Regions from separate parts of the Homo sapiens genome. Here all the other regions are linked to region 1. The links come from fine-mapping of genetic effects on gene expression. A gene starts in region 1. Each other region holds a variant in brackets. All regions are shown on one strand. Distances are from middle to middle.

Region 1 (2,768 bases):
AATTCCACAGACAGCTACGAATAAAGATTTAGGACAGTGGGAAAGCCTCATCAAAAGGTACCGAAGCCCTCTGTCTGGCCCCAGCCAGCCACCTTTCCAAGAACCCAGGGCACGCCGCCGCGGCATACAATAAGACAGCCTTTCCCTCCTCGCCTTTCTCCACCACCATCCCCATTGCGCCCCCCTTTCCCGACTCCCCCCCCCGCCACACACAATCACACCACCAGTTCAGAAATCTCGAAGACAATCCAGCTTCGACAACAAACCCGAGAGACACCCAAACACCATTGTGCCCCCAAACACAAATGAAACCTGGCTGGGGGCGGGGGAAGGAGGGCACCTAGCTAGTCACGTTCTGCCAATCTCCAAACCACGCCATTTTAGACGATTTATCACTCCTTTCCTCCCGTCTACTCAAGAATTCTCCAGGATTCTAAGGAACCACTCCTTTGGTGTGGGGGGACCCCGGCTATGAAAAATCCACAATTTAGGCTATCCATTTCCATTCAACTTTCAGACTAGAATCCAGCCACACTCCTCTCCACGAATGAGCCTTGGGAGCCACCAGGAGGGAAGGAGAGAAAGACACGAAATAAATGACCACAACCACAGGTAGAATTTACCTGTCCGTTCGCTTTGGAAGGCGACGAGGCCACAGCCGCCTCCCCAGGCCTCTCCGCGGCGGCTTCTCCCTTCGCTGCGGTCTTGGAGAACTGGGCACCCATGCTGGCTTCTTCAACAAAGAAACTCAACAGATCCAAGAGGGGAAACAAAGAGCCTCGGGTTGGTGTAACGACGGGGCGAGCAGCAGCAGCAGCGGCGGCGGCAACAGCGGCAGCGGCACACACACCGGAGGGAGGGGGGTGGGGGTGGTGGAGAGGACAGAACAGAACCGATTAAATACACTCCGGATAAAAAAATTTTAGTCGAAGAGATCAAAAAGCAGCAGCACAGGAGGGAGGGAAAAAGGGTGGAAAAGTCGAGCACAAAAAAAGGAGCCCAAGTGTAGTTCGAAAAAAAAAGAAGTAATAAAAAAATCCCAGATTTGTAGCCGCACTGTAGACAAGAGGAAAATGGAGAAATCTCCCTGGTTGCTAATAAGATGCGGGGTCCAACGCCCAAGTGCACAGATGAATGGGCTCGCGGGCGCTGACGCGGCCCCCGCGCGCGTCGGCCAATCCGCGCGCCGCACACAAAGCAGGGGGCGGGGTCTGCGCGCCTGGCGAACAATGGAGCCGCGCTTTGCAAACGGTTTGAAAATCAGCCTCAGACCGAGAATTAATGTCCTCCAAATAAATAAATCAATTAAAAAATACATGGCACTCGTCTCTCTCTGCTTGAAAATAATAATGCATTTCTTGATTGGCTTGCTTTGTTTGGAATTAATTAACACGGGAGGGGGGTACTTGTGCATCGGGGCGGAGAAAGCGTTAACTTGACTCGCATTGACTCTCGTCGGTCTATATCCGTGTGTCTCTCTCTCTCCACTCGCTCCCCTCCCCCATCTTTCCGTGTGTTTATGTGTATGTGTGTGTATGCGAGTGTTAAAGACAATGGTTGCGATTTGTGTGTTTGCAGCATGTTTTCTTTCTTTTTTCCATATTGGTTTTACAGATAATGCTCAGGGTTTGTTTTTTGAACTGCTGCAATGGTTAAATCGTCCCAAATTGAAAGGTATTTAAACCACGAAGATCGAATTTCATCAAGCGAGATCGCAAGTTAGAATTAGGTCTGTAGGCCAGATGTGGAAAATGCAAAAGCGGCAAACAGCGAAGCCACACTCCCTTCCCTCTCCCACATTGGCATGAAATAAAATATTTTGAGATTGGCCTTGGGCGCTCAACAAATTCCCCCTTCTCTGGCTATTCCCAATTAGTGATTTTTTTCCCCCACAATTCAAAGTGAGAGCCATTTACAGAAGATCGAAACTCTTCGCGTTTTATCACTGTTTTAAATGACATAATTTTCCTCTATGGTGAAATGAGACACAGCCTCGAGTAGACGAATCCATATTTACAGTTGGGATGTTATTCGCGTCAATATGGATCGTTTTCAGCCTACTGCCAGAATCGAATGGACTCTTTTTGAACGTGTGTGTGAGTGCGCACGCAGGCGAATGTGCTCCTGAAAGGAAGGGAGGCAGCAGCAACGATGACATTCTAAACCGGATTGCAGTTCTAAGGAGAAATGTTCTGTATGTTGAGAGATAGCAAGATCCCTGAGCTCTCCAAGTCTAACTTGGGTTAGAGGAAAACCTTCTATAATGGTACACAGGATACCTCCATCTGTCACTGCACTCCTTGCCACCGAAGTACCAGACGCTTTTTGTGCGTGAGAGACAAGGCACTGACTTAAAGTATGAGGGGTGAGGGGAACCAAGGAAACAGCTTAATAAGCATTTTCTTCCCAAAGTTTTCACTCGTGGCAAAATCAGACCACCTTTTCTCGTTTACATTTGGTGATCTTGCAAGGAATAATCTTTCGCTTATGAAGGTGAGAAGCAGTCGAGGGAATGGTTCATTTCTCCTGGTGCTGGCTCTGAATTCTCAAACAGTTTTATTTTCTGCTCATTGTAGGGAAATAGGTCACACTCTGAGTGAAAAAGACGGTTGGTTCAAGCCAGTAACTCTTTGTTCAAGCGTTGCTTTAAAAATCACCAAGCTGAACATTGTTACGTGAAGCTTCGTCTTCTCACTGTCCAGTTCCTTCAGATGCATTATTCGACCATGGTCATATTCCCCAGAGCTGATGTAAAGACGTTTCCGTAG
Region 2 (2,768 bases), 410 kb after region 1:
CTCAGGCATTGAGTCCCTTAAACCCCCACCACCAATCTAGCAGTCTTATATACAACATAAATTCTCATGCACTATAATTATTGTGGTCAATGATGCTAAACCAAGCACATAGTTTTTCCTCAAACACGTTCATAGGCAAGGAAAAAGTTGCCTTCATGACTCACTTTTAGAGACGAAGCAACAAGTTTGGGTCATGTGAGAGCTGACTCACTCTTTTTCTTCCCTTCCACATTTAAGATGGGTTCATAATAGGGGAAACTAAGTTAACTCTCCATTACCTTGATTGGGACTACATAAAGAGAAACCAAAAATTCGGCCAGAATTTTAAAATTCTGGGGATGTCTTTAAAATCAGTAGACTTCTTGCTTATCAAGTAGTTTATGTCCAGATACCTTCCAATGTAATGTAGTTTTTTGTTATTAACAGCTTTATGGAAGTATAATTTATGTATCTTAAAGTCTACCTATTATAAGTATACAATTCAATAATTTGTAATAAATTTATACAGCAGAGCTATCATCATCACATTCCAGTTTTAGGACATCTCCATTACCTCTAAAGTTTTCTTGTACTCATTTATAGTTAATCACTGCTTCCACATTCACCTCTAGGCTAATACTGATTTCTCTTCTTTTTATAAATTTGCTTTTTCTGAACATTTTATATAAATGAATTACAGAGTAATTATGCTTTTTGCACCTGACTTCTTCTTTGAGGTTAATTTACACTGTAGCATGTATGGTAGTGCTATCATTTTTATTGCTGAATAACCTTCCATTGTATGGATATGGCACTTAAAAAAGTCCATTTCCCAATTGATGGACATTTGAATTATTTCCAGTTTTTGGCTATTATGAATAATGCTGCTGTGAATATTTACCTACATGTCTCTGTGACAGGTTTTTATTTTTCTTACACATATTCCTAGGTATTGCTATGTCATATAGTAAGTGTGCATTTAAATTTTTAAAGTTTTATTTATTTTATAATTAATTTTAATTTGTATTTTAAGTTCCAGGGTACATGTTCAGGATATGCAGGTTCATTACATAGGTAGATGTGTGTAATGGCGTTTTGCTGTACCTGTCAAGACATCATCTAGGTATTAAGCCCAGCATGCATTAGCTATTTCCTGATACTTTCCCTCCCCTGACCCTACCCCCCAACAGGCCCCAATGTGTGTTGTCCCCCTCCCTGTGTCCATGTGTTCTCATTGTTCTGCTCCAGCTTATATGTGAGAACATGTGGTGTTTAGTTTTTTGTTCCTGCATTAATTTGCTGAGGATAACAGCTTCCAGCTCCATCCATGTCCCTGGAAAGGACATGATCTCGATCCTTTTTATGGCTGCATAGTATTCCATGGTGTATATGTACCACATTTTCTTTTTTTCTTTTCTTTTCTTTTCTTTTCTTTTTTTTCTTTTTCTTTTTTTTTTTTTTT[G/TG]AGATGGAGTCTTACTCTGTCATCCAGGCTGGAGTGCAATGGCATGATCTTGGCTCACTGCAACCTCCACCTCCCAGGTTCAAGTGATTCTCCTACCTCAGCCCCCTGAGTAGCTGGGATTACAGGCATGTGCTACTGCACCTGGCTAATTTTTGTATTTTTAGTAGAGACGGGGTTTCACCATGTTGGCCAGGCTGGCCTTGAACTCCTGACCTCAGGTGATCTACCCATCTTGGCCTCTCAAAGTGTTGGGATTACAGGTATGAGCCACTGCACCCAGCCTGTACCACATTTTCTTTATCCAGTCTACAGTTGATAGGCATTTGGGTTGATTCCATTTCTTTGCTATTGTGAATAGTGCTGCACTGAGCAAACACGTGCATGTATCTTTGTAATAGAATGATTTATACTCCTTTAGGTATATGCTCAGTAATGGGATGTGGATCAAATAGTATTTCTGGTTCTAGATCTTTGAGGAATTGCCACATCATCTTCCACAATGGTTGAACTAATTTATATTCATACCAACAGTGTAAAAGCATTCCTATTTCCCCGCAACCTCGCCAGCATCTGTTATTTTTTGACTTTTTTATAATTGACTTTTTGACTGGCATGAGATGGTATCTCATTGTGGTTTTGATATGCATTTCTCTAATTAGCGATGTTGAGCATTTTTTCATGTTTCTTGGCTGCATGAATGTCTTCTTTTGAGCAATATCTGTTTATGTCCTTTGCCCACTTTTTAATGGCTTTTTTTTTTTGTAAATTTCTTTAAGTTCCTTGTAGATTCTGGATATTGGACCTTTGTCAGATGAACATTCCATGCTCATGGATAAGAAGAATTAATATCGTGAAAATAGCCATACTGCCGAAAGTAATTTATAAATTCAATGCTATTCCCATTAAACGACCATTGACATTCTTCACAGATTTAGAAGAAACTATTTTAAAATTCATATGGTACCAAAAAAGAACTCTTATAGCCAAGACAATCCTAAGCAAAAAGTAAGAAGCTGAAGGCATAACACTGCCAGACTTCAAACTACAACAAGGCTACAATAACCGAAACAGCATGGTACTGGCACAAAAACAGACATATAGACCAATAAAACAGAATAGAGAACTCAGAAATAAGACTGCACATCTACAACCATCTGATTTTCAACCCCTTCCTTACACCTTATATAAAAATTAACTCAAGATGGATTAAAGACTTAAATACAAAACCCAAAACTATAAAAACCCTAGAAGAAGGCTGGGCGCGGTTGCTCTCACCTGTAATGCCAGCACTTTGGGAGGCCAAGGTGGGCCGATCAGCTGAGGTCAG
Region 3 (2,768 bases), 390 kb after region 1:
GGTGTTTGGCTCCACTCACCCATTCTAAACTCTCCTCTTTACCAAGGAGCTGGAAGCTTGCAAACTACTATGCCCAGATTCTTTTGCCAACTGGTTTCCAGATAGGATCTGCCAATGGAAAAACGTGATGGAACAATATAAATTCAAGAAAGGGAGAAGCCATTTGTCTTGCATCTGGTGGTACCTCCAGTTGTGCTGGTGGTAGGAATAGCAACTACCTGAGCATCTAGAGGATTGGAAACCACCAAGTGATATGGAGAGAAGTGCAAATGGAATGTCTTTGGACCAGAAGGGGGGTTGTGCATGGGGAGAAGGTAGGAATTCAAGTTTGGAAGTGTTAAGTTTGAGATGACTGTTGGATATCCAAGTAGGGATGTCAGTAAGTACTGGATAGTCTAGAATTCAGGAGTGATGTTAGGCTGCAGGTATACCTTTGAAGTTAGTGATGTCATTTAAAGCCATGAGAGTGAGTGAAATCATTGAAGAAAAAAGAACTCCACCACTCAAATCCTGAGGACCCCTGACATTCGAAACTCAGGGAGAAAAGGAACCAGCAAAAGAGCTTGAAAAGAGTGAACAATGAGGTAAGAAGTAGACCATCAAACAAGAGTCAGTGATTAACCTTGTCAAATCAGTGGATGAGTCAAATATGATAAGGACTGAGAATTGACAGCTGTATTTAGCAATGGAGGTTATGGGTAGCCTTGACAAAAGCAATTTTTATACAGAGTGAAAGAGAATGTGAGAGTAAAAATCCTGGCAATAGTTTATTAATTCACTAATTTATTAAAAAATACTCAGCATCTGCTTTGTGCCAAGCACTGGGGATTTGAGGTGCATAAAAAAGACATTACCCCTGTCCTCTTGTAGCTTAGGATATTTTACTATAATAATAGGCTGTGATTTCATACAGGGATAAACTTCAAAACACTTATGTGTGTGCGTGCACATACACATGCACACACTTGAAAAAATAAAGCAAGAAAGAAATACATAGGCTAAAGAAAGTTTGTTGTGAGGGCTGTAGGATACACTAGAGAAGGCACTGCCTCTATGAGCTAGAACTTGTTAAATGCTGTTTATATTTATCTTAAGAGTTGAAGCATCTGGCATCTTTAAAAAGGGAATATTGAGTCTCTTCTTGTTTTTATTTGGAGAAGTAGTTGACCAGGTGCCATAATTTGATTTTAATCTGATTTTATCTCTGTAGTGCTTAGATAGTTTAATTGCTGGTTTGATCAGAATATGAATTGTCAGAAAAATAACACGTTGCATTCTTGTAGGCAGAATTGTTTCCATGGTTCTCTCTCCTGAATACAAGGGGTTACTCATGGCTCTCCAGGGACTAGGACATGCAAAACAGTATTTTG[T/A]TCATCTAAATATTGTTTGATAGAAATCATGTAAAGCAATATCTGAAACCCTAATATTTTCTTGGATAAGTTTTGGCATGAAGTTCTGTGCAAATTAAAACAATTGAAATTGAAACAAAATGTAAGTGGTAGATACTCTAATGTGTTTCATTTTAATTTGGTCCCTAAATGTAAGAAATAAGAGCCCTCATAAAGTACAGAAAAACTTTATTCTCATATGTATTTTGAGACAGATGCCCAGGCTGGAGTGCAGTGGCATGATCTCGGCTCACTGCAACCTCCGCCTCCTGGTTCAAGCTATTCTCCTACTTCAGCCTTCTGAGTAGCTGGGATTACAGTTGTGCACCACCATGCCTGGCTAATTTTTGTATTTTTTCTAGAGATTGGGTTTTGCTATGTTGTCCAGGGTGGTCTCAAACTCCTGACCTCAAGTGATCCACCTGCCTCATCTTCCCAAAGTGCTGGGATTACATGTGTGAGCCACCATGCCTGGCCTCACAGATATATTTATTTTTATTTACTTATTTACATTTTACTTTTTTAAAAAAATTATACTTTAAGTTCTAGGGTACATATGCACAATATGCAGGTTTGTTACATATGTATACATGTGCCATGTTGGTGTGCTGCACCCATTAACTCCATTTACATTAGGTATATCTCCTAATGCTATCCCTCCCTGCTCCCCCAACCCCACAACAGGCCCCAGTGTGTGATGTTCCCCTTCCTGCGTCCAAGTGTTCTCATTATTCAATTCCCACCTATGAGTGACAACATGCAGTGTTTGGTTTTCTGTCCTTGTGATAGTTTGCTGAGAATGATGGTTTCCAGCTTTATCCATGTCCCTGCAAAGGACATGAACTCATCCTTTTTTATGGCTGCATAGTATTCCATGGTGTATATGTGTCACATTTTCTTAATCCAGTCTATCACTGATGGACATTTGGGTTGGTTCCAAGTCTTTGCTATTGTGAACAGTGCTGCAATAAACATGCGTGTGCATGTGTCTTTATAGTAGCATGATTTATAATCCTTTGGGTATATACCCAGCAATAGGATGGCTAGGTCAAATGGTACTTCTAGTTCTAGATCTTTGAGGAATCGTCACACTGTCTTCCACAATGGTTGAACTAGTTTACCATCCAACCAACAGTGTAAAAGTGTTCCTATTTCTCCACATCCTCTCCAGTACCTGTTGTTTGCTGACTTTTTAATGATCACCATTCTAACTGTTGTGAGATGGTATCTCATTGTGGTTTTGATTTGCATTTCTCTGATGGCCAGTGATGATGAGCATTTTTTCATGTGTCTGTTGGCTACATAAATGTCTTCTTTTGAGAAGTGTCTGTTCATATCTTTCGCCCACTTTTTGATGGGGCACAAATATATTTAAAGTGC

The links.
Region 2: its variant is fine-mapped to the expression of MARCKS in whole blood (INTERVAL, PIP 0.98).
Region 3: its variant is fine-mapped to the expression of MARCKS in whole blood (TOPMed, PIP 0.91).

The regions. Positions count from the first base shown.
Region 1 is chr6:113,855,703-113,858,470 of GRCh38, reverse strand. It overlaps MARCKS (myristoylated alanine rich protein kinase C substrate), which reads right to left and starts at 1,126. Exons shown (of 2, transcript NM_002356.7): 1 at 624-1,126. The coding sequence starts at 725. RefSeq lists enhancers at 1,045-1,094, 882-1,425, 1,426-1,971, 2,242-2,291, 2,312-2,371.
Region 2 is chr6:113,444,661-113,447,428 of GRCh38, reverse strand. No RefSeq gene overlaps it. Among named protein-coding and RNA genes, the nearest start is that of LINC02518, 13 kb to the right of the region's middle. The variant G/TG (reference allele first, on the strand shown) is at 1,442.
Region 3 is chr6:113,468,792-113,471,559 of GRCh38, reverse strand. No RefSeq gene overlaps it. Among named protein-coding and RNA genes, the nearest start is that of LINC02518, 37 kb to the right of the region's middle. The variant T/A (reference allele first, on the strand shown) is at 1,371.